Linked DNA regions of Homo sapiens: all the other regions are reported to be linked to region 1. The links are microRNA targets in miRTarBase. Many come from high-throughput screens and were not tested one by one. Region 1 holds a microRNA gene; each other region holds the end of a gene's coding sequence. Distances are between the middles of the regions.
The links. Region 1 holds the annotated microRNA hsa-miR-6733-5p (UGGGAAAGACAAACUCAGAGUU, at 5,539-5,560, shown strand). A microRNA usually pairs through its seed, bases 2 to 8, with sites in the 3' UTR of a target mRNA and lowers its output. Matches are read on the target gene's strand: a 7mer-m8 pairs with bases 2 to 8, a 7mer-A1 pairs with bases 2 to 7 and ends in A, and an 8mer does both.

Region 2: the mRNA of WBP1L is a reported target of hsa-miR-6733-5p. Seed matches in the 3' UTR shown: 8mer at 2,999-3,006 and 7mer-m8 at 4,634-4,640.
Region 3: the mRNA of FIZ1 is a reported target of hsa-miR-6733-5p. Seed matches in the 3' UTR shown: 7mer-m8 at 5,151-5,157.
Region 4: the mRNA of GPR61 is a reported target of hsa-miR-6733-5p. Seed matches in the 3' UTR shown: 7mer-A1 at 463-469, 7mer-m8 at 2,192-2,198 and 8mer at 2,785-2,792.

What each region holds. Positions count from the first base shown.
Region 1 is chr1:43,169,569-43,177,245 of GRCh38, reverse strand. It overlaps MIR6733 (microRNA 6733), which reads left to right and starts at 5,534; the gene lies at 5,534-5,594. It overlaps EBNA1BP2 (EBNA1 binding protein 2), which reads left to right and starts at 4,956. Exons shown (of 9, transcript NM_006824.3): 1 at 4,956-5,193; 2 at 5,277-5,360; 3 at 5,595-5,767; 4 at 6,367-6,490. The coding sequence starts at 5,128. It overlaps CFAP57 (cilia and flagella associated protein 57), which reads right to left and starts at 4,916. Exons shown (of 23, transcript NM_001378189.1): 1 at 4,793-4,916; 2 at 4,336-4,511. The coding sequence starts at 4,492. RefSeq lists a silencer at 4,490-4,689 and enhancers at 4,800-4,849, 4,930-5,059, 4,609-5,244, 5,190-5,419, 5,245-5,881.
Region 2 is chr10:102,811,147-102,819,012 of GRCh38, forward strand. It overlaps WBP1L (WW domain binding protein 1 like), which reads left to right. Exons shown (of 4, transcript NM_001083913.2): 4 at 1,449-5,116. The coding sequence ends at 2,185. Among named protein-coding and RNA genes, the nearest start is that of CYP17A1-AS1, 18 kb to the right of the region's middle. RefSeq lists an enhancer at 4,274-4,807.
Region 3 is chr19:55,586,751-55,594,616 of GRCh38, forward strand. It overlaps FIZ1 (FLT3 interacting zinc finger 1), which reads right to left. Exons shown (of 3, transcript NM_032836.3): 3 at 4,626-6,896. The coding sequence ends at 5,700. Among named protein-coding and RNA genes, the nearest start is that of FIZ1, 8.8 kb to the right of the region's middle. RefSeq lists a silencer at 612-661.
Region 4 is chr1:109,543,992-109,551,123 of GRCh38, forward strand. It overlaps GPR61 (G protein-coupled receptor 61), which reads left to right. Exons shown (of 2, transcript NM_001393907.1): 2 at 1-3,269. The coding sequence ends at 387. It overlaps GNAI3 (G protein subunit alpha i3), which reads left to right and starts at 4,624. Exons shown (of 9, transcript NM_006496.4): 1 at 4,624-4,847. The coding sequence starts at 4,730. RefSeq lists enhancers at 1-238, 4,151-4,210, 4,741-4,910 and a silencer at 2,400-2,636.

The sequences.
Region 1 (7,677 bases):
GCCTCTACCTGCTCCAAGTGCCATTATCTCTCACCTGAATTACAGCAATCATCCCTCAGCTGTTCTCCCTGCTTCCTTTCTTTCTCCTCCTTAAATCTGTCCTCTGTACAGCAGCCAGAATGAACCTGAGGAAACACAGATCATGTTGCCACTCAGAACGCACCCCTTTATGGCTTCTCATTTGACTCTGAGTAAGAGCTCATGAACTGCAAGCCCCTCTGTGGTGTTGCTCCCCATTCTTTCTTTGCCTCCCCTCTTGCTCCTCACCCCCCGGTTCTTACCACTCCAGCCACACTGGCCTCCCAGCTATTCCTCCAACACAATAAGCACCCTCCTAACTCTGAGCCTTTGCTAGTCTCTCGGCTACTCCCCCTGCCCTCCCACATCAGCACAGCCAGCTCCTTCCTTTCCTTCAGTCTTCACTCAAAAATCACTGCTCAGTGAGCCCTCCCCAGCCTCCCTATCTACAACTTCTTACTCCCCCAACGGCTTCACTTTCCATGCTTTGTTTGTTCTTATTAGCATCTATCACTATCTAGCATGTAGACTGTACTTCTTTTTATTTTGTTTGTCACTCTCCCCTCTTAGAATGGAAGCACTGTGAGGACAGCATTTTATGTGCATATGTGCGTGTCTATTTTGTGCCTGGAACACAGGGGGTACTTAATACATTTTTGTTGAGTGAACAAATGAATATGTTGAGCCTCATCATGACTCTGAGCTGAACAAGCTGAGCATCATCTGCATCTTACAGATGAGGAGACTGAGGCTCTGTGAGCCTATAAAATGGGGAGCCAGATCAAAGCCAGGTCTCCCAATGTCATGACCTTTATATTTTTCCCTTCACCGGTAATACCCTTAGACTTGGTCAGTGGAGATCCTCCCTTGGGCCTCAAATTTTAGAGCATCCCGGAGTCTTTCTCTGGCTGTACCCCTTACCATTAAGTGGGATACAGTGGCTGCCTGGAGTTTGTCCTGCCTCTTCTAGATCACGTTGCAGGTACCCAGGACTCTGGAGTTCCCTGCTCAGATAGTCTTGAGCCTGCTGACAAGACCAACATTGGGGGTTTCTTCCCAGGCTGTCTCTACTCAACCTGGGCCTGAAGGATGGGCACAGGGTGGTTGCTTATAGAATATATGGGTAGAATTTGAACATATGGGCTGCAAGGATCCACCCACATGTGTACAAGGCCCCTGGTGATATAAGATGGAGTTAGGAGCAGAAGAGAAGTGATACAGTAAGAAGTGTAAGAATATGAGCACAATAACTGAAAGTAAAATCTCAATGGATACATTAAACATTAAGTTAGATGCAGCAGAAAAGAGAAGCAATGAACTACGAGATACATCTAAAGTAATTATCTAGAATGCAACACAGAGAGAGTAAGGTATAAAAAATCCAAATAAGAGTTCAAAAAAAAAAAAACCCAAAAACATGAACGTCAGGTGTGGTGGCTTGCACCTGTAATCCCAGCTACTTGGGAGGCTGAGGTGGGAGGATGAGTTGAGTTCAGGAGTTCAAGACCAGCCTCAGCAACATAGCCAGACCCCATCTCCATAAAAACAATTAGCTGGTCAAGGTGGTGCATGCCTGTATTCCCAGCTATTCAGGAGGTTAAGGTGGGGAGGATGGCTTGAGCCCAGGAGTTTGAGACTGCTGTGAGCTATGATTGTGCCAGTGCACTCCAGCCTGGGCAACAGAGTGAGACCTGGTTTCTTAAAAAATAAATAAATAAAATAAAATAAAATAAAAAACTGGAAGGATGGAGTTGAGATGGTTTGGAGTTCCAGAAGGAGATAACAGAACAAAAAAGATACCTGTCCTTAGATCCAGGAATCTCAAATAATCCCTAGGAGGATAAAAAATGAAAATAAAAACTATACTGATGTGTGTGTCTGTATCTATATGTATGTATATATACTATGTATATATACATGTACATATAGTATATGGTGTGTGTATATATGGTGTGTATTTTATACGTATATATGTATATGGTGTATGTGTATAGATACATACACACACACACCATAGACAGAGAAGATATTAAACATCCAGAAAAAAAGATCATCTACAGAAAGACGATGCTGATAGCTAATTTCTTAACCACAGCAACAAAAGAGAAGCCAAAAAAACACAATGGAATATGATCTATAATATGCTGATAAAAATTTCACACCTGTTGAAACTATCTTTCAGAAATGAGGATAAAATAAAGTCATTTTCAGACAAAAACTGGGAGAATTTATTAATACATTATCAGTAAATGCAGAAGGAAAATGATCCCAGCTGGAATATCTGATTTGTAAAGAGTAATGGTGGGAAAAAGTTTGGTAAGTATGAGAGCAAATATAAATTAATGTTGTCTGTAGAAAACCATAATTTAATTTATATTGGAAAGTCATATGATCTTTTTTATTTTTGTTTTTGAGACAGGGTCTGGCTTGGTTTCCCAGGCTGGAGTGCAGTGGTGCGATCTTGGCTCACCACAACCTCTGCCTCCCGGGTTCAAGCAATTCTCCTGCTTCAGCCTCCCGAGTAGCTGGGACTACAGGCACGTGCCACCACGCCCAGCTGATTTTTGTATTTTTAGTAGAGACGGGGTTTCACTATGTTGGCGAGGATGGTCTTGATCTCTTGACCTCGTGATCTGCCCACCTTGGCCTCCCAAAGTGCTGGAATTACAGGCATGAGCCACCACACCTGGCCAGATGTCCATTTTTATTGCCCCTAATCAACACTGTCTGGAGGTGCTTACCAGCACAGGTAACACAAGAAAAAGGAAGAAAGTCATCGTTATTTGTAGATAACATGATAGTCTATGTAGAAGTCTCTGCATAATCTATAGACAAATCATTAGAATTAATAATAATTTAGCAAATATGCTGGAAATAAACATCAATAAATTAAAGTCAACTGTATTTAATACAGCTTATTCCAACAGAATATTATGTGGTTGATAAATTTGACTTTATTAAAACTAATAATTTTTGTCCATCAAAAGATACTTGTAAGATGGGAGAAAAATGCCCCAAACTGAAAGAAATTATTTGCAAGACATATATATATATCTGACAAATTATTGATATACAGAATATATAAATTGTGCATGTAAATCAATAAAATTGCCCAAAAATATCCTGCACAACAAACTGTAAAAAACAAGTAAAAGACTTGAACAAGGCATTTAACATACGACTAAATAGGAATAGCCCATAAACAGATACTCATCATCATTAATGATAGCAAAATGCAAACGAAAACCACAATTCCTTTTCTCAACCATTGGGTTAGCAAAAAATTACGAAGTTGGACAATACCAAGGGTTGGCAGGGTTGCTGAGGAATAAGAACTCTTATGCACTTCTAGTGGGAGTGTAAATTGGTACTATCATATTGCTCAGTAATTTTAGTCCTGGCTGTGTGCCCTAGAGAATCTGCACAAATAGATGAATGTATATGCATGCAAGAATGTTTATAGTAGTATAGTTTGTAATAGCAAATGATTGTTATTTCCCAAATGTCCCTCAATATTAGAGTGAATACATATATTTGAGACATTATATTCATATGATGGAACACTACATAGCAATAAAATGAACTTGGCTATATGTATCGAGATGTGTGAATCTCAAAAGCATGACATTGAACTGATGCAGCAAGACACAGAATACAGGGAGAAGCACTAGAACTGGTAATATTCTGTTTCCTATGCTGGGTGGCTGGGTTCACAGATCTACATTCTATTGTAATTCTTTAAATATGACATATATGTAGGGTACATTCTTTTGTATGTATATGTCACAATAAAAGGTGTCAATGCAACAAAGAATGGGAAAATGGATTCGGTTGTTGAAATAATGAATATCATTAACAGGACCACTGTGAACAAAAATAAGGGCTGTAATGCTATACAAATGGTTATTTGCGACTTGGGATAAAGTTTACAGTGTCTTCATCATACTTGGATTCAAACGGTGATATAATGAAGGTGGTGTGCTCAGGAAAACTGTTAGACAACTCAAAAAGTGGCTCTGGTGATGACAAAGGCAGTGATATTGAAGACACCAAAAGAGGGGTTCTTAACATATTTTCATGAAATTACAGTGAAAAAAGTACTTTTAAATTAACATTTTATATGTGATTTTAACTACATATGCGTGACTGATTAATCTAGTTTCATAATACAAGTCGCCATTTATTTCCTCTACATTTATAATACTGCATATATATTCAAATTGGCCAAAATCTTTCTTTCCAATCATCATGCTGGGATTATGGGGTTATATGTGGCACATACCATTCCTGTATATGTCAGGATGGAAAAAGTTTTACCTGGAATGAATTTTTGCCATTTCTGATCCACATTGTACTTCACACAGTGATTTCCTGAAGGAAATATAATGATCTGTTCATCGAAGTAGAAGATATTGTTGGCCACGTGGGATCGAAGACCAAAAACATGCAGCGTCTGAGCTACCACGGCTGACATGATCTCCCGCCAAACAGTTCTGCTGAAGACCAAGGCAGCGCTTCAGAGTGGAGAGCACCGCCCCGCTCCGACCCCGCCCCCGGCCCGGACTCGCCCTCCCCGCCCTTTGCTCCTCCCCTTGTCTCTCCCCTTTCTCCTCCCCTTGTCCCTCCCCTTTCCCCTCCCCTTGTCCCTCCCCTTTCCCCTCCCCCGGGGTCCTCCTCCGCGCCACCCCACCCCCGCGGCTCCTTTTTCTGCCTTTTCCTTTGTACCCTCACTGCTACCAGCTCCTTCTGGCGACCCCCAGGTACCCCCTCCCACCTTTCGTTTCTCTCTGGGTCAGCAGACCACGCATGTATCCAGAGGCGCTACCTGTAGGGATCCTAAGCAACCCGGACACTTTCAAACGCCGTAGCGGTTCCTATAGCAACGACAAACCGGAAGTATGGTTTGCCGCCGGAAGCGGAAGTCCCAATCAAAAGTTGAGCAGTAGCTGTGAGTTGCTGGCGCTGGAGCGATTCGGTGGCACGTGGAGCCACGGCGTGGGAGTAGGGGGCTGAAGGCAGGCAGCAGCGGCCAGGGCCGCCCTCTGCTAGCCGCTTGGGTCTCGGGATACCCCGTTTCTTCCTGTAGGTGTGGGACGTGCGTGCGGCGAGATGGACACTCCCCCGCTCTCGGATTCGGAGTCGGAATCCGATGAATCCCTTGTCACAGACAGAGAGGTAGGTGTCAGCCGAGCTCGTGGGGCTGGGCGTGGGAGAGGGGGCCTTACACCCCTGGGAGTGACCGTGATTGTGTCCTGCAGTTGCAGGATGCGTTTTCCCGAGGGCTTCTGAAGCCAGGCCTCAATGTCGTGCTAGAGGGGCCGAAGAAGGCCGTGAACGACGTGGTGAGCGTGGGCACAGGGTCGGGGGTACTCGGACATGGGATGCGCTTCAGGCGCTGTTGGGCTTGGGAGACCGATTCTTGTCCCAGGAAAGATGCACCCTGCGCCTCGCCAAGAGGGTCAATTACCTGTCTGGGTATTGGGGATTAGCACTTTGTCCCTTCGCCTAACAGCCTGTGCTTGGGAAAGACAAACTCAGAGTTCCCTTCTTGTGAGCTCAGTGTCTGGATTTCCTAGAATGGCCTGAAGCAATGTTTGGCAGAATTCAAGCGGGATCTGGAATGGGTTGAAAGGCTCGATGTGACACTGGGTCCGGTACCGGAGATCGGTGGATCTGAGGCGCCAGCACCTCAGAACAAGGACCAGAAAGCTGTTGATCCAGAAGACGACTTCCAGCGAGAGATGAGTTTGTATGTTTGTTTTCAAATGTTGGAGAAGTTGAGGATCCTTGTGCAGGAGAGTGGGAAAGAGGGGAAATTAGTAAGTCTGCACTCAGAATAAGCCTAGGAGTAGAGAGAGCGGCTTCTTTTGACTAAGAATAGCTAGGAGATTCTTCCTGTTTGAGAGAAGAGCTCTTTGGTCCACGGTCACGATCCAAAATCCACTTTATGGGCTAATTTGAAATATTCATGTTAAAACTTTTTGTGCATGCTTCAGTTATTAGGAAAACAAACAAACAAACATTGCTTATGGGATGTTCTTGTGTGGAATTGCTTTAGTAATTACATAAGAATCCATAATCGACATTCGTTTGTGTTAATGGGTACCTTTAGAGTAGTCATTCTCTTAAACTATTTTTAGCAACACCCCTCCCCTTTTTAAAAACTAGTATACGGCTACATTTCTTTTAGATACTAAATCAGTGAGACAGTTTTTGTTTGTTTGTTCTTGCTAATGGAGGTCAGATTTTGAGAGTCCTTCTGAGCTTGGATAACTCATGATTGGCGGTGAAAAGGAACGTAAGGCCTCCTCCTTCACCTCATTACACATTTTGTCCTACGATTCTCAGCTATCGCCAAGCCCAGGCCGCAGTGCTTGCAGTCTTACCCCGCCTCCATCAGCTCAAAGTCCCTACGAAGCGACCCACTGATTATTTTGCGGAAATGGCCAAATCTGATCTGCAGATGCAGAAGGTAAGAAATAGAAGTTTTCCTCTGGAAAGTCAAAACTTTGTACTTAAGCATATTCAGCTGGCTTAGAAAGATAGCTATGAGCCCAATAACGGGGAGCCAGTTGTCAGAGGACAATTATTACCTCTTCCATAGATTGGCTACTTCAGAGTCATGCCAGTTACCACCAATTAGATGCATATAAAAATGACATTTTTTCTAAAATCAGCAATTAAGGAGAGGAACAGTGCTGTGTGAAGTGTGGTCCCCGAGGTGAAGATGGCCCAGTGCATTTCCTAGCTGGCATGGTCATGACATGGTGTGCAGAGAGGACAGCATTCTTGTGCCCTTGCCACTGTCAGTGCTAGAACTTGTAGACAATTACTTTTCTCTGGGCCTCAGTTTTCTCCTCTGTAAAATGAGGGATTCTTAGATGGTTCAGATATAGTACAATTTAGAGTTGGGTAGAACTTGGACCTCATTTAACTTTGGAAGAAGGGATTGCCAGCATGTAATCCAACATACATTCAGCCCTCCATAGCCATGGGTTCAGCATCTGTGGATTCAACCAACCTTGGATCAAAAATATTGGGGAAAAAAATTTGAAAATATTGCAAAAGGAAAACTGAATTTTCCGTGTGCCGAGAACTACATTGAATCCATGAGAATGAGGTGATGCATAGCATTGTATTCGGTATTATAAGTAATCTAGAGACTATTTAAAGAAGCGGTCTGGCACTAGAGACTAGTTTCGTGGATGACAATTTTTTCATGAACTTGGGGAGGGGATAGTTTTGGGATGAAACCGTTCCATCTCAGATCATCAGGCATTAGATTCTCATAAGGAGCAGGCAACCTAGATCCTTTGCATGCATAGTTCCATGCATAGTTCACAGTAGAGTTCGCACTCCTATGAGAATTTAACGCCACCACCAATCTGACAGGAGGTGGAGCTCAGGTGGTAATGCTTGCTTGCCTGTCACTCACTTTCTGCTGTGCGGCCTGGTTCCTAACAGGCCACAGATTCATAGTGGGTTCGTAGCGGTCTGTGGCCTGGGAGTTGAGGTCCTCTGACTTTAAAGGATACTGGAGGCGAGTGTAGGTTATATGCAAATGCTGCACCATTTTTATATAAAGGACTTGAGCATCTGTGGATTTTGATATCTGTAGTGGGTCCTAGAACTAATCCTCTATGGATACTGAGGGATAAG
Region 2 (7,866 bases), not on the chromosome of region 1:
CGGGCTCGGTGGCTCAGCACTTTGGGAGGCCGAGGCGGGCAGATCATTTGAGGTCAGGAGTCAGTTATAACGTGAGTGAATTGAGACTTGGGGTTCATTGGCCTGAATTCCTCCCATTTTGCTTATTTCTGTGTGATATGCCTGAGCAGAGGCTGCCATGAAAGGGGCGGGTTGGGGGGTGGCATTGGGACTTCTGAGCACCAAGAAACTTAGTGACTCTCTGAAGAGCACTTCCCGGACTTCCCTGGGGCTCCTTACATGTGACCTCTCATATGGTCAGTGGAGGCCCAGCTGTGCCAGTTTTCCAAAGCCAGTCTACAGTGTATTCTACAAAATAAACTTTCACAATTGTTTCTTTACAATTGTTTCTTTTTTTCTTTTTAAGACAGAATCTCGCTCTGTCACCCAGGCTTGACTGCAGTGGCGTGATCTTGGCTCACTGCAACCTCCTCCTCTGGGGTTCAAGTGATTCTTGTGCCTGAGCTTCCCAAGTAGCTGGGACTACAAGACCATGCCATCACACCTAGCTAATGTTTGTATTTTTAGTAGAGATGGGGTTTTACCATGTTGGTCAGGCTGTTCTCAAACTCCTGAGCTCAAGTGATCTGCCCGCCTCGGCTTCCCACAGTGCTGAGATTACAGGCGTAAGCCACTGTGACCCACCATTATTTCAGTTCCACATCTAGAGGGGTTAAGTGCTTAGCACAGTGCCTGGCATATAGTAAGTGCTCAATAAATGTTAGTAATGTTATATTATAATTAAATTATCTGTGTCATAAGGCATTCAGCACATTCAAAAGATAACTCACCTAGCATGTTTTTAATAAGCCTTGGATGGCAGAGGCCCCTTACCCTTTGCCGGTCACCCATCTGCTCCTGATCTGAGTCAAGGTGAAGCTTGGTTTGTGTTTCCAGACCACCTCCAGCCACAGTAGAGACAACAGAGATTTCTAACCCCCTAGCAAAAGACCCTACATAGTGCATTTGGAAGGTTAGGAGGAAGAAAAGTAGTTAAGAAGTCTGAAGTTAGGGACCCTGGCCCTGAGGCCTGTGGGACTTGGATGAAGGACACACTCTAAGCAAGAACATGAGACTTGTGTGCATGTGGAAGTGGGTCCATTCCAGGCAGAAGTTATTTTTTGGCCATCTACCACGTTTGCCTAATTCTCTGCCTTAACTCCCAACAGGCGTGAAGTCCTTGCCTACGAAGCAGCTTTAGGGGCTCTCAGATTTCAAGAAGCTAGGTTAGGCCCTTCCCAAACTGCCCCTCTCTCTCTGCAGAATTGCTCGCAGCTGTCTCTCCTCTGCTCACAACCAAGAGCTGTAGCCATCACTTGTTGGGTGCTCTGGGGTGGGAAGAGACAATGCAAATATTCAGTGGGAGCTTTGCAGTCTGCCTAGAACAATGACCAGTGCAGTAATTTCTCCTTCCTACCTCCCCATTTTAGGGTTTTTGCCAAACTATTTACTACCTCCTTATGAGGAAGTGGTGAACCGACCTCCAACTCCTCCCCCACCATACAGTGCCTTCCAGCTACAGCAGCAGCAGCTGCTGCCTCCACAGTGTGGCCCTGCAGGTGGCAGTCCCCCGGGCATCGATCCCACCAGGGGATCCCAGGGGGCACAGAGCAGCCCCTTGTCTGAGCCCAGCAGAAGCAGCACAAGACCCCCAAGCATCGCTGACCCTGATCCCTCTGACCTACCAGTTGACCGAGCAGCCACCAAAGCCCCAGGGATGGAGCCCAGTGGCTCTGTGGCTGGCCTGGGGGAGCTGGACCCGGGGGCCTTCCTGGACAAAGATGCAGAATGTAGGGAGGAGCTGCTGAAAGATGACAGCTCTGAACACGGCGCACCCGACAGCAAAGAGAAGACGCCTGGGAGACATCGCCGCTTCACAGGTGACTCGGGCATTGAAGTGTGTGTGTGCAACCGGGGCCACCATGACGATGACCTCAAAGAGTTCAACACACTCATCGATGATGCTCTGGATGGGCCCCTGGACTTCTGCGACAGCTGCCATGTGCGGCCCCCTGGTGATGAGGAGGAAGGCCTCTGTCAGTCCTCTGAGGAGCAGGCTCGAGAGCCTGGGCACCCGCACCTGCCACGGCCGCCCGCATGCCTGCTGCTGAACACCATCAACGAGCAGGACTCTCCCAACTCCCAGAGCAGCAGCTCCCCCAGCTAGAGCAGGTCCTGCCAGCACCCAGCAACTTGGCAAAGCAACCAGGGTAGGGGAGAACCACGAGAGAAGCATTAAGTGACTTTCAAAGACTTTCAGAGTACAGCCACTTGGTTCCTTTTTGTTTGTTTTCCTTCTCCTCTCCTGCATTTTCCTCCATCTCCAGGTACAGTTCGGGGTGTGGATGCCTCTTCCTCCACAAGGGCACAGTGTTGTGGAGGGCTAAGTTGGTTCTGTGACTCATTCCTCATACCCTAACTCCATCTCCTTTCTTTAAAGTCAAATCTCACCTACCTGTTTGGGTCAGAGAGATGTGTTTTAAAAGCCCCCAAGGAAGGAGGCTGGGACTGTGCCCTGACATGATTCTTGGTGATGGAATAGGTTTGTGCTCTGATTCTAGTTTAAGAGAACGTTGCTGTATCTCAGTCCAGGAGAGGCAGCCCATCTTGGCCCTGGATGAAGAAGGAAACCCACAGAGGCCCAGGGCTTGTCATTGGGCTGCCAGTGTCTGCCAAGCCAGCATTGAGCTAATCCTGTGGGAGGATGAGAGCTACTGGGCCGTTGTATGATAGGTTGGTAGGGGCTTGTTGATCTGTCAAATTCCAGGTGACAAGATCTATGCACCCCATGCGTCCTTGAGGGGCCTCTTCCCCGCAGGCTCTGGCTGGCCGCAGGCTGGTTCTGGTGTGAAAGGTTATACTGCCTTTTCTTTGTTTGTTTGTTTTTTTCTCTAAAAACAAACAGCAAAAGACAGCTGAAAACAAGAACTTCACCGGTGGGCAGGCAAGAATTCTCTTCTGGAAAATGACGTTTGTGGCTCTTTCCCAAGTTGGCCTTCAAAGAGCCTGCCTGCTGTTGAGCCAGAAGATGTCTCGTGTGAAGGCTGGGGTGGCGGCTGTCTTGGAACCTCTGTGAGCAGGAGGCCCTAAGCCGCAGCAGTGGATAGAGGTGCAGCTCTCTGCCTCTCTGCCCTTTGGTCTGTGTTCACAGGTGACCCGTGTCAGCCTGCATCGCAAGCACACACCCTGCGGGCCTTCAAGTCTCACTGTTCCGTATGAGGAAACAGACAGCGGACTGAGGAAGCGATGGCCCCAGAGAAAGGGCCCCTGTAGCCTGGCTCTCACACAGTATTTTATCTTTGATTCTGAATAAATATTTTTTGTGGGGTTTTTTTTTTTTTTTTGGTGGCAGTTGTTTGTTTTAAACTGACCACTTGGAAGAAACACCTTGGTTATCTGTGGTTTTCATGCCTTGTCCCTGCCTCTACCCCCACCCCTTTTGAGTCGGGTGACTCATTTTTCTGTGTAGAGACTCGGTGGCCCAGGCAGGAGGTGAAAGCAGCCATCCGGAAGGCCCTGGGGACCCTTGTGCCTGTTGCTCGCCTTCAGGTCACCAGCTGAGCTGCGATAGGAAAATCTGAATGGAGGCAGCAAACAGCCAAAACAAACATTCCCCACCCGGCCCTGTGCATATGAAGTCTTTCTTCCCCCAACTCTTGAACGATGATGATATTCAGACGAAGCATTGATGTTATGGAAGAAAGAAAGAAACAAACAAAATATATATATATATGTCCAAAAACAGACAAATCCAAGGGTGTGAGGTAAACGAGTGTCTGCATTTAGATTCCACAAAACCAAAATCCATGTTGAACAAAGTTAAGTCCGTACACAGTGACTTTTTGGGTGAGCCGTGTGTGTCTGTCTGTTGTGTGTGTGCCTCAAGCCCTGTTTTCCTGTGAAGATACTTTGAGTGGCAGCCATTCTCTCCACGTGAACCACACGTCTGGAGCACAGACAGGCCTCTCAAGGTCATTGATCTTACGCATTTACTGTTTACCGAACAAATGTCTGACTGTGTACTCGGGTGTACTCCGCAGCATTGTCGACTGCAGTCCCCTGTGTTTGCCAGAGATACTGTGCTCGAAGTAGAGGTTTTACTCTACTCATCACTGCGATTTGCACATTGCTCCGTGGACACTCGGAGGCCTGCGTTCTGTTCCCTATAAATGGAAGCGTGCTCTGAGCCTGTCTGCCTCCCTCGGCTGCTGCTGGTCCTCAGTACCAGCGCCCGGGGGTGTCCACAACCACTTGGGACAGAAGAAGGTGGAATTTCAGACAGAAGCTTGACTGGGTCTTCAATGACAGGCTTGGACTAGCTGTGGCCCAGACATCGGCCCTGCCCAGAATTGCCAGGAGGAGGCTTTGCAGGCTCTAGAGGAGCCGCAGGGCCTGCCTGCCTCTGGTGAGTCCAACAGGCACAAGCAAGCTGGCGTGTGGCCAGAGGTAGCCGGAGTGTGTCACAGCCCCTCAGATGCCTTTCCTTCCACCTTTTTTTATTTTTTAAGAATCCCAAATAACTCACTGAAGTGTCTCAAAGGCGAACAAGTTTTACCAAAATGAATCCTTTTTCAGTTAACAGATCAAATGGATGAGTTCTGAGCCTCTCAAGTTCCTTTCCCCAGTTAGAGTGGGGAACTGGGCAAGTGTTAACTGTGGGACTCACTGCAGCGTCCTATCCTAAAGGCACGAGAAGACGGAAATGCAACCTGCGGAGCTGGGCTTGGTTCCCAGGTCACAGTTTGGCCCCCGCTACAGGATGCTGCCCTGCTCAGAGAGAGATTTAATAGGGAGCTGAAGGAATCGTTAGGGGGCCAGGGAGATGTGACTGAGGCTGGCTTTCCACGTGAATGAGACGGGGTCGGTGGAGGGTTTGGTGCTACAGCCAGTCAGAAGATTTGCAAATGCGAACACATTCCTGTGTGAGGCACGTTACCCTTTGTCAGTTATTGTGAATATGTGTATTTTAAGCAATAAGATTCAGCTGGTCAGACTTTTCTGGGCAGTCTCAGTGACGCATTTCCTGTGCTGTGATTGTTCTGAAGACAGAGTGGCTCTAACCACTGTGAGAAGCCCAAATAAAAATTGATCCCAAAAATGCTACTGCTCTTTCTTGCTGCACTTTGTTCCCTCTTCTTCTTCCTCAGTCTTCAGGAAATTGCACCTCAAGATCCTAAACCACAAGCACTTTTCTCCACACAGAGACTGAGAGGTTGTCACACAGTCATTGAGGATAGGGCCCTGGGCCAAAGAGAAACCACAGGGCCAAGGGCAGCTGGACAGTGCTGCTGGGTCCACACTCTGTTCTGAGGAGTCCTCCCCTCTCTCTGTCAGGGTGTGTTCCTGATGTTTGGAATACTTTGGAAAGTCCCACAAACAGGCTAAAATCAGATCCCGAGAAAGCAGAGACAAGTTTTGTCAGATACCCTGTTGCTAAAACATGGCTTTTTTTTGAGACACAGTCTCACTCTGCCGCCCAGGCTGGAGTGCAGTGGCGCGATCTTGTCTCACGCAGCCTCTGCCTCCCAGGTTCAAGTGATTCTCCTGCCTCAGCCTCCTGAGTAGCTGGGATTACAGGTGCCTACCACCACGCCCGGCTCATTTTTGTATTTTTAGTAGAGACGAGGTTTCACCATGTTGGCCAGGCTGGTCTCAAATCTCCTGACCTCAGGTGATCCGCCTGCCTTGAGCTCCCAAAGTGCTGGGATAACAGGCCAGCCACCCTGGCCTGGGACTATAGGCATGAGCCACTGTGCCCAGCTATTTTTTTATTTTTATTTTTTAAATAACAGAGATGGGCTGGGCGAGGTGGCTCACGCCTGTAATCCCAGCATTTTGGGAGGCCAAGCTAGGCAGATCACTTGAGCTCAGGAGTTTGAGACCAGTCTGGGTAACATGGCAAAACACCATCTCTACAAAAAATACAAAACTTGGCTGGGTGTGGTGCTGTGTGCCTGTGGTCCCAGCTATGTGGGAGGCTGAGGTGGGAGGATGGCTTGAGCCCAGGAAGTGGAGGCTGTAGTGAGCTGAGATCACACCACTGCACTCCAGCCTGGGCAACAGAGCGAGACCCTGTATCAAAAAAAAAAAAAAAAAAAAAGAAAAAAACTATATGTATGTATATATATATATATATAGAGAGAGAGAGATAGGGTCTGACTGTGTTGCCCAGGCTGGGCTCAAGTGATCCTATAGAGTCTAACTATGTTGCCCAGGCTGGGCTCAAGTGATCGTACTGGCTTGGTTTCCCAAAGTGCTGGGATTACAGGTGTAAGTCACTGTGCCCGGCCAAAACATGGCATTTAAAAGAAAGCAAGCACTCTGAGAGATCTTTTTTGTTGATATGATAGACATGGGGGTATATGCTTGGCCTTGGAATTTAACACACAGTATAATGTATCGAGTTGCCCACTTTCTGCCCAGCACTGTGTCAGAGGCTCAGGATAATGTCAAAGACATAGAAGATGAGGCCTCTGCCCTCCAGAACTTACAGTCAGAAAGACAAAACATGGCCGAGCATGGTGGCTCATGCCTGTAATCCCAGCACTTTGGGAGGCTGAGGCGGGTGGATTACCTGAGGTTAGGAGTTCGAGACCAGCCTGACCAACATGGAGAAACCCCGTCTCTACTAAAAATATTAAAAAATTAGCCAGGTGTGGTGGCATGCGACTGTAATCCCAGCTACTTGGGAGCCTGAGGCAGGAGAATCGCTTTAACTCGGGAAGTGGAGGTTGTGGTGAGCTGAGATCGCACCATTGCGCTCCAGCCTGGACAACAAGAGCGAAACTCCATCTCAAAAAAAAAAAAAAAAAAACATACTTGTGTGAAATAGTTAATTAACAATATAAGTTAAGTTTGAGGTGAAGTGAATGGTACAGATTTGGAGCTTTTCAGGGAATAGTGGGAGGTAGTTTGAGGTCTTGAATGCCAAGCAAGAGGTCTCGGAGCTGATTTTAGGTAGTGAGGAAGCCACCAGTGTGCCAGAATCTGTCATTGTGGGCCAATGATTCTTTCCTAATACAAGGAGAGTTCCTTTGTTCATTTTACCATCTGCTTAAGACTGACCTCTTAGGTGTAAGTGCTTTTTTTTTTTTTTTTTGAGATGGAGTCTCGCTCTGTCGCCCAGGCTGGAGTGCAGTCGTGCCATTTTTGCTCAGTGCAACCTCCACCTCCTGGGTTCAAGTAATTCTCCTGCCTCAGCCTCCCAAGTAGCTGGGATTACAGGTGCCTGCCATGACGCCCAGCTTATTTTTGTATTTTTAGTAAGGATGGGGTTTCACCATGTTGCCCAGACTGGTCTCGAACTCCTGGCCTCAAGTGATCCACCTGCCTCAGCCTCCCAAAGTCCTGGGATTACAGGCGTGAACCACTGTGCCTGGCCAGGTATAAGTCCTTGTTTGAAGAACAGCTTGCTACTTCTCTGCCCAGGGAGGACACCCCTACCCAGCAAGACTGCAGATGGGCAAAGCAAGGTAGTACACATCCTAGGAACCCTCCAGGAAGGGGTTCCTGCCTCCATAAGTGGAGTGCTCACTGGTGGGCTGGCACCCAGGGGGTGCTGGCAAGTGAGTGTTGTCCTCCCTAGGCCCTGGCTTGCCCAGCAGTCAGCGCTGTTTTTTCTGAAGGCCAGTTTTAGCCAGACATGCCGCCACCCCTGTCTTTGACCCTCTGGCAGAGGACATTCCTGGCCTCTCGGTGACACTAGTGGAGTGGTTGCTGACTTGTTCTTTCTAAACTGTTGGGTTCCTTCAGGCAACCCCAGTAGGGCCATGCTAGCATCTAGAGACAGTTCTGTTCTAAAACCACGGGAAAGAACTGGGAGTATATCATTCTTGCCTTTGAGCTAAT
Region 3 (7,866 bases), not on the chromosome of region 1:
CAGACGTGAGCCACGGCGCCGGCCTTTAATTTTCAACATGGTACTTATCACGAACACACACTAGGCAATGTGTGAATGTCCCATGGATTCCCTATCTCCCCTGCCACTAGAATAAAAACTCCACAAGGGAAGGGGCTTGTTTTGCCTGTTTAACGGCTCTGCCCACAGGTGGCTGCCCGGGACAGACAAGGGGCTTAACAAGCATTTGTGGATGAATAAAAAGGGATGAAGGGTGGGAGGAGTGAGGCTGTTCCTGAAAGGAAGAAGGCTCGGGGGCCCGGGGGAGACTCCCGCTCAGGCAAGCGTGCAGGACGCTGGCTGGCTCCAAGGTCTGCACGCAGGAATCAGCTCGCCAAACACAGGCGTGTGAGTCGCCGGCGTCTGGCTAGTAATTAATGTTTTGCAACGGTTGAGATCGTCCTCAGGGTAAAATTCCCGCTCCTGTCCTCTCCTCGCTTCCCACCCCCCCTCCAACCTCAATCAGCGTATCTATAAAATGGGGCCGCTATGTGACGCGTTGGGTGCAGTGTCCAGTCCAGCACCGGGCGCTTGTGAGACACGGAGGAAATGGGATGGGTCCTTCTCGTTACCGCCCCAGAAGAGAAAGGACTGTGGTGCAGGTGAGGTGGGTGGGAACCTCAGCCTCGCGAGGTCCCTATTCATTACTCCCTGGCCGGCGGCCATCTCCATGGCAACGCTGGCGCCTTTCCAGTGCGCAGCTCCGGGGCTCAGCCTGTCTCTAAGCCGGTCTCGGAGTGGGCGGGTCTTGTCCCTGGGGGCGGTGCCTGCTTCGAAGTGGGCGGGCCTTGTTTCTCGAAAGAAGATACTTTTTTTCTCAAACCAGAAAGCATGTCTGGTTTTTGAGTGGCGGTTGCAGAGTGGAGAGGAATATCTCTAAGATTTAGCTGATTTTATTCCCAAAGGTTGAGCTTTTTCAAACAGGCAACAGTGGATCTCCATTCAAAAAGTCTCCCTTGAGTGCTAAACTCTTACTTGTTTTCTCCTCCCAGAATATGTCTTCCTCCTTTAAATTTTCCTTTCTTTTTCTTTCTTTTTTAATTTATATTTTAAATTTTAATTAATTAATTTATTTTTTCAGACGGACGTCTCGCTCTGTCACCCGGGCTGGAGTGCAGTGGCATGTTCTTGGGTCACTGCAACCTCTGCCTTCTAGGTTCAAGCGATTCTCCCGCCTCAGTCTCTCGAGTAGCTGGGATTACAGGCGTGCACCACCATGCCCAGCTAATTTTCGTATTTTTAGTAGAGACGGCATTTCACCATATTGCCCAGGGTGGTCCTGAACTCAAGTGATCCGCCTGCCTCAGCCTCCAAAAGTGCTGGGATTACAGGCGTGAGCCAACACGTTCGGAATTATTTTTTATTTTTGAGACGGGGTCGCACTCTGTCGCCCAGGCTGGAGTGCAGTGGTGCGATCATAGCTCACTGCAACCTCGACCTCCTGAGCTCAAGTGATCCTCTCAGCTCAGCCTCCCAAGTAACTGGGACTACAGGCGTGCACCACCATGCCGGTTTTTTGTTTGTTTGTTTGTTTTGTTTTTGGTAGAGACAGGATCTCACTATGTTGCCTAGGCTGGTCTCGAACTCCTGAGCTCAAGCCATCCTCCTGCCTCAGCCTCTGAAATTGCTGGGATTACAGACATGAGTCAACTCGCCCAGCCTAAAATATCTTCTTTGTGAAATATAAGACACACAGAGAAAAAATGCACAATACAAACACACAATTGAATAAATAATTATAAAATGATCGTCCGATTAAGAACTAGAACTTTGTCGGCTATCAGCAACCGTGGAAACTTCCAGGATATCCCCTCCCGCTTAACTTGTCCAGTCCACTATTCTGAGTTTTATAGGACATTGTTGTCCTTGCTTTTTTATATGGTTTACTACTGACAATGTATCCTTAACAATATTACAGTTTAGTTTTATGTGCATTATAATGGGTTTGCTTTTTTTTTTTTTTTTTTTTTGGAGACAGGGTCTCCCTCTGTTGGCCAGGCTGGAATGCAGTGGAATGATCTTAGCTCACTGCAACCTCCGTCCCCCTACCCCAGGCTCCAGCGATCCTCCTGTCTCAGCCCCCCGAGTAGCTGGGCCTACAGGCACACGCCACCACACCTGGCTATTTTTTGTATTTTTACTCGAGACGGGGTCTTGCCATGTTGCCCAGGCTGATCTCGAACTCCTGGACTCAAGCAATCCTCCTGCCTTGGCCTTCCAAAGTGCTGGGACTATAGGCGTGAGCCACTGCACCTGGCCTCAATGTTATGTAAATGAAATCATGCTCTGTTTCTGGCTTTTTGGGTCCTGTATCTTTGTAACTTTCATTCATGATACTGTGTTTATCTGCAGCTCATTCATTCTTGTTGCCGTATAGTATTCCACTGCATAATATGCCATCGCTAATTATCCACTGTATTGCTGATGGGCGTTTTGGTTGTCCTGAGTTTGGGGTTGAAAGTATTGCTGCTATGAATGTTTTTGTATGTCTCTGGGTGCAGGGGGACTTGAGTTAGCATTTACGCCTAGCAGTAGAATTCCTGCATCACAGGATATATGTATGTTCAATATTTGAGAATGGCAACCTGTGGGGCATTTAATTTAAGAAACTCAGCAGGGTGCAGTGGCTCACACCTGTAATCCCAGCACTTTGGGAGGCCGAGGCGGGCAGATCGATCACCTGAGGTCAGGAGTTCGAGACCAATCTGACCAACATGGTGAAAGCCCGTCTCTACTAAAAATACAAAAATTAGCTAGGTGTAGTGGTGCACATCTGTAATCCCAGCTACTTGGGAGGCTAAGGCATGAGAATCACTTGAACCCAGGAGGTGGAGTTTGCTGTGAGCCGAGATCACACTATTGCACTCCAGTCTGGGCAACAGAGTGAGCCCCTATCTCAAAAACAAACAAAAAAATCTTAAGGAACTAAAGGGGAGGAAACTTTGATTCTCCTAAACTCCTACTTAAATGTGTCCTCCCTCAGTTTTCTGGTCTTAGTAAGAAATGCCACCACTCAACCATTTATTCCTGATTTCTCCCTTCCCATTACACTCACCCCCAACCAATACACACATGCACACAACCAGTCCTCTGCATTCGTACTCCAGAGTTCATCTCCAACCCACCCATTTCTTTGTTTTGTTTTATTTTATTATGTTTAGTACAGACAGGGTCCCACTATGTTGCCTAGGCTGGTCTCAAACTCCTGAGCTCAAGTGATTCTCCCGCCTCGACCTCCCAAAGTGCTGGGGTTACAGGCGTGATTTCTGTTGGTCACTCTGGTTTAGGCTCCCACAAGTTTCTCCTGGACTGCAGGAGCGCTGCACTCTCCTGACTCTGCGTCCTGCAGCTTCGTTTACACTCAGCAGCCACAGGGATCTTGGTAAGATGCAAGGGTGGTCCCTTCCCTCCTCGATTAACACTTTGCTTCCCATCACCCAGAGAACACAGTCAAACACCTGTTTTGGCTTGCCTGGCTTACTGTGATGTGACGTCTACCCACCTGTTAACCTCATCTCATCCTTCCCTCCCTGAGCTCACTTTCCTCCTGTGTCCATTTGGGCATCCTCCTGGCAGGTCCTTGCTCACCCTTACCCTTCAGGGCTCAGATCAAACGCCACCTCCGCCGAGAAGCCCACATGGACCACCCCATCTAAGGTGGCATAAAAAGTGAGTAAGGTGGCCATTCATTTTCTTACCACCCTTCCCTATTGCCTTCAGAATGCTCAGGACGATCTGAAATTATTTTCTACATTTACTTGATTCCTCTTTTCTCCATACCCGTCGCCTACACGACAGAACATAAACCCCAGGAGGGCCGGGATGATCCCCACAGGGAGTTCCAACGCCTGGCTCAGAATAAGCCTTCAGTACGGGAACACAATGCAGTGTGCAGGAGACAGTCTGAAGGCACCCCCACCCCCAATTCTCTGATGAGCGGGTCCTATTCTGGGGGTCTGGTATAGGGTCCAAGGCAGCATCTAAGAGGCGGGGCCTCTGCTCAGACACGCCTCTAATGAGGCAGTTTGGTTTCCAAGGGGTGTGTCCTATAAGATTGGTGACTTCTAAAGGGCGTGTCTAGTTTCTAGGGGGCGTGTCCGTCTGTTGGAGGTGGATCATGTATTTAAGGGACGGAACTCATTTTGATTGATACTGACTCTAATTGTATTTATTTATGAAACAGAGTCTCGCTCTGTTGCTCAGGCTGGAGTGCAGTGGTGCAATATCGGCTCACTGCAACCTCCACCTCCCAGGTTCAAGAGATCCTCCTGCCTCAGCCTCCCGAGTAGCTGGGATTACAGGCATGTGCCATCACACCCGGCTAATTTTTGTATTTTTAGTAGAAACAGGGTTTCCCCATGTTGGCCAGGCACGGTCTTGAACTCCTGACCTCAGGTTATCTGCCTCGGCCTCCCCAAGTGCTGGGATTACAAGCGTGAGCCACCAAGCCCAGCCTAAACCGACTCTAATTTAAAAGGGCATGTACTATTCAAAGCTTTGAAACTTCTCAGGAGAAAACGAGGACCCGTCTCTATTTAGGGAGTCTGTCCTAAGAGATTCCCCATCCCCCCCGCCTGGAGCCAAGGATCAGAAAATGAGGCATCAGCGACTGACAGGACAAGGTTTATTGGGGGTCCTGGAAACACTGGGGAGAGGGACGAGGGGGCAAGGTCGAGGCTCACAGGGGCACCCCCTAGCCAAATGCCCCCTTCCCCTAGGGATTGGGAGGAAGACAGAGACAGACAAACCAACAGAGATGGAGAGAAAGACCAACGGATGCTACGGAGAGAGGGAAGGAAACCCCAGTGTCCACCACCTCCCACTCAGATGAGTTCACAGGATAAAGAATTGCGTGGACCGGTCCACACGCTACAGGAAAAGAGAGGAGTGTCCGCCCTATTCACTCTAAGGAAGGTGGCAGGCCACAGCCTAGACCAGCCCATTCCATGTGATGGGGGTGTGTGCACATAGATCAGTCCATTCTACTGGGCAAGGGGATTTCAGGCCAGTCTATTCTAGTGTTTGGGGCGGGGAAGATCGTTAGGGTCGATCCATTCCACAGTCGGGGAGGGGGGATTCGAGGGCAGGGGGCATCTACCCTGGTCCCTCTTTCAGCACAGGGAATGAAAAAGGGGAAAGGCAGATTTCGGCTATATCCATTTTCTGGGGTCACCAGTGACTCTGGTGGGTGGCATTTGGAGGGATCTAGGAAAATTCAGGGACATGCTCCCTCCACATTCTCCAGATCAAGGTCGTTAGGAATGATGGCTCTCAGGGAATGGGGCAGTCTTCCCTTGGTGGGGGTGGGTGCCCATCTTTTAGTATTAGGGCTCTCAAGATGAGAGGTACTTGTGGAGACCCATTGCTCACTGCAAAGTCCCCATGTCTTGGGGACTTACGGCTACCCACACTCATTCCAGGGACCTCAGGCTCAGGAGTCTCTCCCTAGATTTGGGCTCCCCTGCCCCAGCTAAGGACCCTGTTTGTTTGTGGTCCCCCAGCTCCGGGGCCTTTGTGGGTTTTTGGTGGCCCCCACCTCTCCAGTCAGGGTCCCCTCATTTCAGGGCCTGCGTCTGGATTTGGATTTGGAGGGCCGGGGCCTCACGCGCAGTCCCGAGGTCCCCTGGTCCAGGCCGAGTCCAGGAGGCTGGGTGGAGGGCAGGGCGCACGCAGCCTGGCAGTCAGTCCATGCCCCGGTGCAGCTTCAGGTGCCTGGAGAGGTTGCTGAGCGTGATGAAGCCCTTGCCGCAGATGTGGCAAGGGAAGGGCCGCTCGGTGCCGTGCAGCAGCCGGTGGCGCTTGAGGTAGCACTCGTGGCGGAAGAACTTGCCGCACTCCAGGCACGGGAACGGCTTCTCGCCAGTGTGCACCAGCACGTGCCGCTCCAGGTCTCGCGGTGAGCGGAACAGCTTCTCGCACTCGGAGCAGCCGAAGATCTTCTTGCCGCGGCCGGAGCCAGACGGGGGTTCCCCGGACGCCGGTTCCCTTTCCCGGGCGGCGGTCGCCGCCTCCTCCCCGCCGCCCTCACCGTGGCTGACCCGCCGGTGCTCCTCCAAGGCGGCCAGCGCCGCGTACAGAGCCCCGCAGTGGCCGCAGCCGTAGGTGGCCGGGCCCGAGTGGGCCTCCAGGTGACTGGCCAGGGCCGCGGCCGACGCAAAGAAGGTCCCGCAGTCGCACTGGTACAGGGTGTCTTCCGAGGGCTCGGCGGCCGCCGCAGGTGCAGGCGCCTCCCCACCGCCCTCGGGGAGCAGCCCCCCGAGCTTGGGCACGCCGCCCCCCGCGGGGCCCAGGAGCAGCCTGCGGTCCGAAGCCAGAGGAGCGTCGCCCGCCTCCGCAGCGGTGCCTTCGCCCGCCGTCTCGGGCCCTGCGCCTGGCCCCGCGGCCCAGGCCTGCGCTGGGGGCGCGCCCGGGCCCTGCAGGTCGTGCGTCAGCTTGTGCCGCTCCAGCAGCGCGGGCGCGTTGAAGTCGCGCTCGCAGCGCGGGCACTTGAAGGGCTTCACGTCGGTGTGCGCCGCCCAGTGGGCCGCCAGCTCGCGGCCGTGGTCGAAGCGCCGCGCGCAGGCGCCGCACGCAAATGGGGGCAAGGAGGCCGCGGCCGCAGCTGCCGCCTCTGCCAGCCCCCAGCTGCCCAGACCCGCGCCTGCCCCCTCGGGGCCCTCTCCGCCGCCGGCCCCTGAGCCCCCGCACACCGAGCAGGGCCCCACATTGCAGCAGACGGAGCAGGGCGCACTCAAGGCGGGCAGGCCAGGGCCGGGCTGCAGGGGAGAGGGGAGAACCCCACGGTGCTGGCGCTTGAGGTGGCGGCCCAGGCTGGAGCGTGAGGAGAAGCGGAGCTCGCAGACCAGGCAGCAGTAGGGTTTCTCACCAGTGTGGACGACCTAGGGGTGCGGGAGGAAGGGCACAACGTCAGGGCTGAGAACCTAGCCCGGACAACGGATTCCTGGACTCCCAGAGGGTTGTGGCACAAGCTCTCTGTCACACCTACAGGGCCATGATCTAGGGAAACGCTCGTCCTATCACTCTCTGTTTGGGGTCACGGTAGATTCTTTCGGTCCTTAAAAAGGCCATGTCCTGGCTGGCCATGGTGGCTCACGCCTGTAATCCCAGCACTCTGGGATTGCATAAGCCTAGGTGTTTGAGACCAGCCCAGGCAACACAGGGAAACCTTGTCTCTACAAATAATTTTAAAAACTAGCTGGACACGGCACACTCCTGTGGTCCCAGCTACCTGGGAGGCTGAGCCAAGAAGTTTGAGGCTGCAGTAAGCCGTGACCATGCCACCACATTACAGCCTGCATGACAGGGTGAGACTGTGTCTCAAAAAAAACAAAAAAACACGACTGGGTGCGGTGGCTCACGTGTGTAATCCCAGCACTTTGGGAGGCTGAAGTGGGTGGATCATTTGAGGTCAAGAGTTCGAGACCAACCTGATCAACATGGTGAAACCCTGCCTTTACTAAAAATACAAAAATTACCCGGGCCTGGTGGCGGGTAGTCCCAGGGACCTGTAGTCCCAGCCACTCAGGAGGCTGAGGTAGAAGAATCACTTGAACCCGGGAGGTGGAGGATGCAGTGAGCCAAAGACGTGCCACTGCACTCTAGCCTGGGTGACAGAGCGAGACTCTGTCTCAAAAAAAAAAAAAAAAAGCCCGGGTGCGGTGGCTCACGCCTGTAATCCTAGCACTTTGGGAGGCCGAGGCGGGCGGATCATGAGGTCAGGAGATCGAGACCATCCTGGCTAACACGGTGAAACCCCGTCTCTACTAAAAATTCAAAAAATTAGCCGGGCGTGGTGGCGGGCGCCTGTAGTCCCAGCTACTCAGGAGGCTGAGGCGGGAGAATGGCATG
Region 4 (7,132 bases), 66 Mb from region 1:
AGTGTGGTCACCTGGATTGGCTACTTTTGCTTCACTTCCAACCCTTTCTTCTATGGATGTCTCAACCGGCAGATCCGGGGGGAGCTCAGCAAGCAGTTTGTCTGCTTCTTCAAGCCAGCTCCAGAGGAGGAGCTGAGGCTGCCTAGCCGGGAGGGCTCCATTGAGGAGAACTTCCTGCAGTTCCTTCAGGGGACTGGCTGTCCTTCTGAGTCCTGGGTTTCCCGACCCCTACCCAGCCCCAAGCAGGAGCCACCTGCTGTTGACTTTCGAATCCCAGGCCAGATAGCTGAGGAGACCTCTGAGTTCCTGGAGCAGCAACTCACCAGCGACATCATCATGTCAGACAGCTACCTCCGTCCTGCCGCCTCACCCCGGCTGGAGTCATGATGGGCCGCTGGACACTCGGAGGGATATGGGGCTGGGGCCAGTTATGATTGCAAGGACCACCTTGTGGGATCACCTTTTCCCAGCTGGCTAGGGCTGAGGCTGGGGTCTCTGCACACAGCTTTTGCTTAGTGTTTCCTGGGTCAGGAACAGAGCCAACAGGATGAACGTGTGCAAAAGCCTTGGACTTGGCTGTGATCTTTGACTGCTAGGGGAGGGAACCTGGGTATGGTGAGACGGTGACGAGAGAAAAGGGTCACAAAGGTGAGGTGAAACCTCTCAATTGGTGAAATTTCCATGCTTCCAGAAGCAGGGAATTCTCTAAGGGTAGGAGTTGGAGGATACAGGGCAGCAGGCCAGGTTTGGAGTTATTCTAGGGGCCATTTAGGATATTTTATTTTTCAGTGTAATTGTCCAGGGCAGTAATTGCACCCAAGCAAGGTAAGAAAATGACCCATGTTTTCTCATTTCCTTGCTAGGTTTAAAAAGAACTAAATTATAGCCAAGTGTTTCCACTTGAGTTAATAGATCATTTTTCTGGTTTTATACCTGAGATTTCCTTAAAATGAGAGGACCAGTAGGGTGTATTCCTTTACTGAGTTTGGCCAGAAACAAGGCAAAATAGAAATTAGGGTACATGGAGTAGAAGATAGGAAAGCTGACTGCAGCTCTCTCTCTCCCACCCTTCAGGAAAAGCCCTTCTGTTCTATTTTTCTGTCTCTCTCCTGCACACAGGAGATCAAGGGTAGAGCCTGATCTTAGCAGAGACAAGAATAAGGCAGGATGGCTTTCCTCTCTTTTAGGAGGAAGAATTAGAATGACTGGGGGTCAGACGGGCGAGGGTGGAGGTTAGCATTTGAATTGGTAAAGTAGCTGGAAACAGAGAGGCCAGGTAATCAGCCTGATCAATAATACTGCGAATCTTTTCTTTCCAGGACTGGCCTCCCTGATCTCTCTCCTCATGGCAGCGACCCACCTCCAGTCCCCTGGACAATCGGGTACAAGAGACTTAAGGTTGGGCATGGGAAGGGTGGGGTTTCCATGATCCATTAAATGCCTTCCTACTCCCATTCATCGCTCTCAAAATTAGCTTCAGTGACAAAGACTTAAATCTCTCTCCTATCTGCAGCACTGGGTTGGAGAGAGGGCACGGGAGTTGGTCTTGGCTGTTCATTGATTGAGACTGTAGGAACTGTGTTGGTTGGTATTGGTGGTGGTATTTTCAACAAACAGGGAATAACTGCAAACTGGACAGGACACCCATCTGGGACCACCTGTCCATCCTACTTCCCTCAATTGAATCAGGTAACACTAACGGATCAAGGCAGGGCCAGAGGGTGGTGTGGTCTCTATTTGAACAAATTCCTGGCTCACTGAGCATCAAAAGGGGAAATGGGCTGGTGGGAGTGGGATAGTCTCCCATTTAAGCAGCTAATAAATAATTTTTATGATAAAAGGTTATACTGATAACAACATTGACTCCTTTAGTTCAATTCAGTGCATAATAGTTGAACACCCACTAGTCCCTGGGACCCACACAGGGCGTGTGGTCATTGCTTTTAAGGAGTTCATAGTCTAAGTTGATGAGATACCTTATATTTTCACAAAGCACTTTGATTTGATAAAGCACTACAGAATGTGCTTGAGAAATATATTGGAGAATATGTCCATGGCTCTAACTTCTGAGAGTTCAGCCCGTGGCAGCAAGATGCATACCTTGAAGCTTCCTGCAGATTGTGGAAAGCATAGGGGTTGTAAATGAAACTCTCTAATGAAGAAAAAAAATTAAATGAAACTGGGCAAACAGCTTTCCCCCTTTGTTCTAGGAAAATTTCTAGGTTGTCTTCCTACCACTAGATTATTATACCAGTCTAGTGCCTATTACATTGTGGAAGTTCCCTAAAAACATAGTATATATAGGGAGGAGAGTCCTTTGTGATTGAAAAACATGTTCACCTCTCCTCCCTATTAAAATAAATGCATACAGAGGAATCAATCATTCCTAGACAGGGAAAAAACTCTTCTTTCAAACACCACTGATCAGCTATTAGATCCAAGGAATTGCCAGCAGGTGGCAGTGTGAGCCCAATGGAAGGAGGAAAGGCGAGTGTACGTGGTGGGAGGAGGAAGGGGAGGGCATTAAACATTGCCTGGCAGCCATTTTGTTAATTTATTTTGCCTTTTCCTTTGACTTTGCCCTCCAGCCCTTCCTTCACATACATCAAAGAAGAAAGTTTTAAGAGCAAGGGTATCTTTAATTCAGGCTGAAATTTCCTGACACTGTGATCTCACTGGTGTTTATTACAGAGTTTGACATACATGGGTTCATTTGCCATTTATTTTTCCCTGTAGGAGTGGATCATGAAGGAAATAAAAATTTCTCTTTTATTATGCTGAGAACTTTCCCAACAATTTCTGCTATGACCACCTTCCAGGAGTTTTCTAGTCACCAGATGCCTTGGTAAAGTTCAATACGTAATCTTTGGCTCTGAAAGCTGTTCCTGGACAAAATCTGAGCTAACTCACTGAAGAATCAACAGATTGAGGCAACCATCCGGTCAGTTACTTTTTCCTGCATCCTGCTGGTGTTGGGGTAACTCCCAATCCTAGATGAAAACCTTAGACTTTCTGTTGTCAGGTGTCCCCAGGCAATATCCTACGGGGGCATGATAGAAAAGGGTAACTCTGGGGTCAGATAGATGTACTTACTCACTGTGTGAAGTTGGGAAAGCTGCTTAATTTCTCTGAGCCTACTTCCTCACCTGTAAAAATGGGGATCATTATTACCTACCTCACAGGGTTGTTGTGAGGATTAAGAGATGGGATGTGGGAGCACCTAGCCGTATCTGGCAAATAGGTACTCAATAAATACTGGTTTTACTTCCCTTTCCTCTTGCCCTTTTTCCCCAAAAGTATTGATAATGGAAAAGCAGTCCCTTTCATTCTTAACAGTCATTTGGGAATGACTGGGGGACTTTTCAAACCTTGAAGAATTGGCATTGCTAAGAGTTAAGGTGGACGAGGCTTTTTAAGGTGGCTCTAATCCTCTAATTAAATCCTTCTAATTAATGAATCATCACTATATAAACCTCTCTGTTGGGACCTTACTTTCTCAAGTTCAGATTCTATTAGAGAAATAAATTTACAATCACAGGGAAAGGTTTTAGGGACTGAGTTCCCTTCGCTAGAACGTATAGTAATTGTGGGCTTATTTGCCTGAAAAGTTGATTTAGGACTACCTTCACGCAGTATCCAGGGTTATTAGTGAAAGATGCTATCTGCCTGGGACTTTCACAGTGGACTTAAGTTTCAGGTGATACTAGGGCTGAGAGGCAAATTTTACTAGAACCTCTCCTTTTGCATGTTATCGCAACAGGAAATTTTAGTAGGAGATTCACAGGATGCACTGGTTTGTTTCGGGGTGTGGAATTGAAGTTGACTTATCTTGGTTTTAGTTCTAAGACCCTAAGGTAGGAAGATCTGAATTATACTGGAGAGAAGGGCAGCATGGAAATTTTATGGAGGAACTACAGGCTTACCTTTCAGGTTATCGAGTATCTGCTAGCGATTTCAAGTGGCCTTTTGCCAATATAGGAGTTAAGCAAATCTCAAGCCCACAGAAATACGTGAATAGCAAAAGGACCAGGGGACATTTTGAGAGGAGTCAGTGGGCCAGAGACGGCAAAAAGTTATTGCTGAGGTCCTAAGCACAGTCGGTGTTACGATCTCAGATGTGAGACGTGAACGGCGCCCAGGCCGGATAGCTTGTTCCCATTCCATTGATCTGAGATAACCCCAACGGAGGCAGTGTCCCATACTTGGGTAGGGGTCCCGAGTCTCCACAGCCAGAGATCAAAGGAGTTTTCTGGCAGGCGAGAAATTACCAGCAGATATTCCCGCGCGGGATGTAGGCTTTAATTTAGAAATCTCCGCCCCAAAACTGGCATCTTGAACGCGGGAGGGCATTATGAGTTAGAGGCCCCGGTTTTTCTCCATTTATCCAAATCAGGTAGCCGAAAGGTAAATGAGGCTTCAAGTTGGGCGGCGGGCAGCGAACTTGACAGAACCTCGAAACTCTGCAGATCCGCCGCCCAACCCAGCCGCCAGCTCCCCGTGACTTCCGCTTTCGGTCTCAACTCCTCTCCCTGAGGAGAGTGGTTTAAACGGTGAAGGCTGCGGGGCGTCGCCGGAAGTGTCGTAAACGTCGGATATCCGGTTCTTCTGGGCGCTAAGGGAGCTGACGGAGAGGGCCACCGCCCAGCAATAGACGGTGCCTCAGCCTGCCGAGCCGCAGTTTCCGTGGTGTGAGTGAGTCCGGGCCCGTGTCCCCTCTCCCGCCGCCGCCATGGGCTGCACGTTGAGCGCCGAAGACAAGGCGGCAGTGGAGCGAAGCAAGATGATCGACCGCAACTTACGGGAGGACGGGGAAAAAGCGGCCAAAGAAGTGAAGCTGCTGCTACTCGGTGAGGGGCTGGAGGCGGGGACTGAGTGGTGGTCGGGAGAGCCTAGGCGCTTGGAAGGCCTGAACGGGGTCTGGTCGGGCCGACGGAAAGGACCCTAAAGGGATCTGGAGGGCGTGCCGGGCGTGGGGCGGGGTGTTGGGGTTCCTAGCTGAGGCCCCAGAGGGCGTGATGAGGGGGGTGGGGTTTTGGGGTTGCGGGAATTAGGCTGTAGAGGGTGTGACTCCGGGCTAGAATTGCGTTTAGCAGAGAGACTTGGGAGTATGGGCCGGTAGATGTTGAGGGAGTAGGAATATGGGAAAAGCTCATAAAGGAAGAGTTGATACTAGGAAGGTTTTACGTTGGGTTGGAGCGTGTTGGTAACGAGAACGGCATAGAGTATATGTTGGGCTTGTATAATGGTTTGTGAGTTTGGAGCGTCGTGGTTCTTTGGCAGGATAAAGCTAGCAGGCTTGAATGGATGGTACAGAGACTGGAACAGAATGGTCACATAAGGACGTTGACATTTGTTAGTAAGAGAGCCATTTGAACTGTTGGAAGAACCCTGGATTATCCAGGAACATGAAGATAGGTAGGTGAGATAAATGACAAGTTATCAGGTATAAAGGAAAAGAGCTTGGGTGCAGAGGCCATCTCTACTTTTCCACCGTTTCCTATCATTTTTATTTTCAAAGTTTTATAACGTCTTCTTCTGTTTTTACAAAAGGATGGGAAATGGTGTGAGCTGAAGAAATTTAAAGAATGATTTCTTTGAGGTTTGTAGCAGAAGATCTAGTGAACAAGAGATTACACATTGGAGGATGCTGAATAGTTGCTATAGATGATGTGTAGTTGGAATAGTTACCTTAGGATAAGTTACAGAGTTGGACATATTCACTGTAAAGACTATGGTAGACTTCTGGTGGCTGTTTTATCCTTTTTGGCCTCTTCAAAGCAAAACCATTGACTTCAGGAATTACTGTTTATGTTATTTGATAGTCGTTTTAATTGGCTTTTTTTAAACACAGTCGGATGTATTTTACTCAACATGAGTTTCAAAATTTTTGAGAGGCTCAGTAAATCATACAAAGAATACTGGCATTAGCTTACTAATAAATCAAGCCACATTTCTTCATTATTAGTGAAGATTTTCTAGGGTAGTATTTCCATTATTTTCCAATATTTTCTAGGGTAGTATTTCCATTAGAGAAGAATAAGTAGGAGTAGGGGTTTCTACAGAAACCCTTACAAGCAATAGAAATTTACTTTTTAAAACAATTGATTTTTGAGGAAAAGGAGTCACTTTAGGGGAAATGCTAAATTTTCATGGTATAAAGCTCCAGAGAACAGAATGTACACTGTAACCCAAGACTTATTTTGTACATTCTAAGTGCCCCTGTTAGTCTCTTCGTGTGAACATATTTGGTTGGTTGTAGATTGCAGAAGCTCTGGTAATAGCTTTTTTGAATATACTATAAAGGGAAAGTTATGTATTGGAGCTTAAGGTTCCGGTTTGTATACCTGAACTTTCAGAAGATGCGAGTTCAAATTGTAGTTCTAGACTGCGACTGTCTGTATAACAGGTGGATATGCATGGTCCCTGGTACCTAGTAGGTGCTCCTTAAATATTTACTGTTAACCAGCCTGAGCCAGCAAATGTTGAACACTGGTCCTTGGGGCCTTTGAGAAATTTGATATAAACTATAACATTCAGGGCGTTAACTTTTTTTTTTTTTTGAGACGGAGTCTCCCTCTGTTGCCTAGGCTGGAGTGCAGTGGCGCGATCTCGTCTCACTGCAACCTCCACCTCTCGGGTTCACGCCATTCTCCTGCCTCAGCCTCCCAAGTAGCTGGGACTACAGGCGCCCGCCACCACGCCTGGCTAATTTTTTGTATTTTTAGTAGAGACGGGGTTTCACCGTGTTAGCCAGGATGGTCTCAATCTCCTGACCTTGTGATCCACCCGCCTTGGCCTCCCAAAGTGCTGGGATTATAGGCGTGAGGCCACCGTGCCTGGCCAGCATTTTCTTTATTGATCGATTGGTTATGAAAGTAAAGATGTATTCTCATCTTCTGTGAGTGATTTGATTTACACTGACCAACAGAGATACCCTTAGGACATCAGTTTATTGTAATGTAGTTGGAAACTTTGAGACTTTCTTCCAAAATGCAGGATTAGGCAGGCAGAATTTGGATAGGCGGAACTTGTCCAGATGTCTAGAAGAATTTTTGTTCAGGATTTTATCTGTAGTGCATTTAATTAAAAACAAAATTAGACACTTGACTTAGGGAACTTGAAAAGCAGTAAG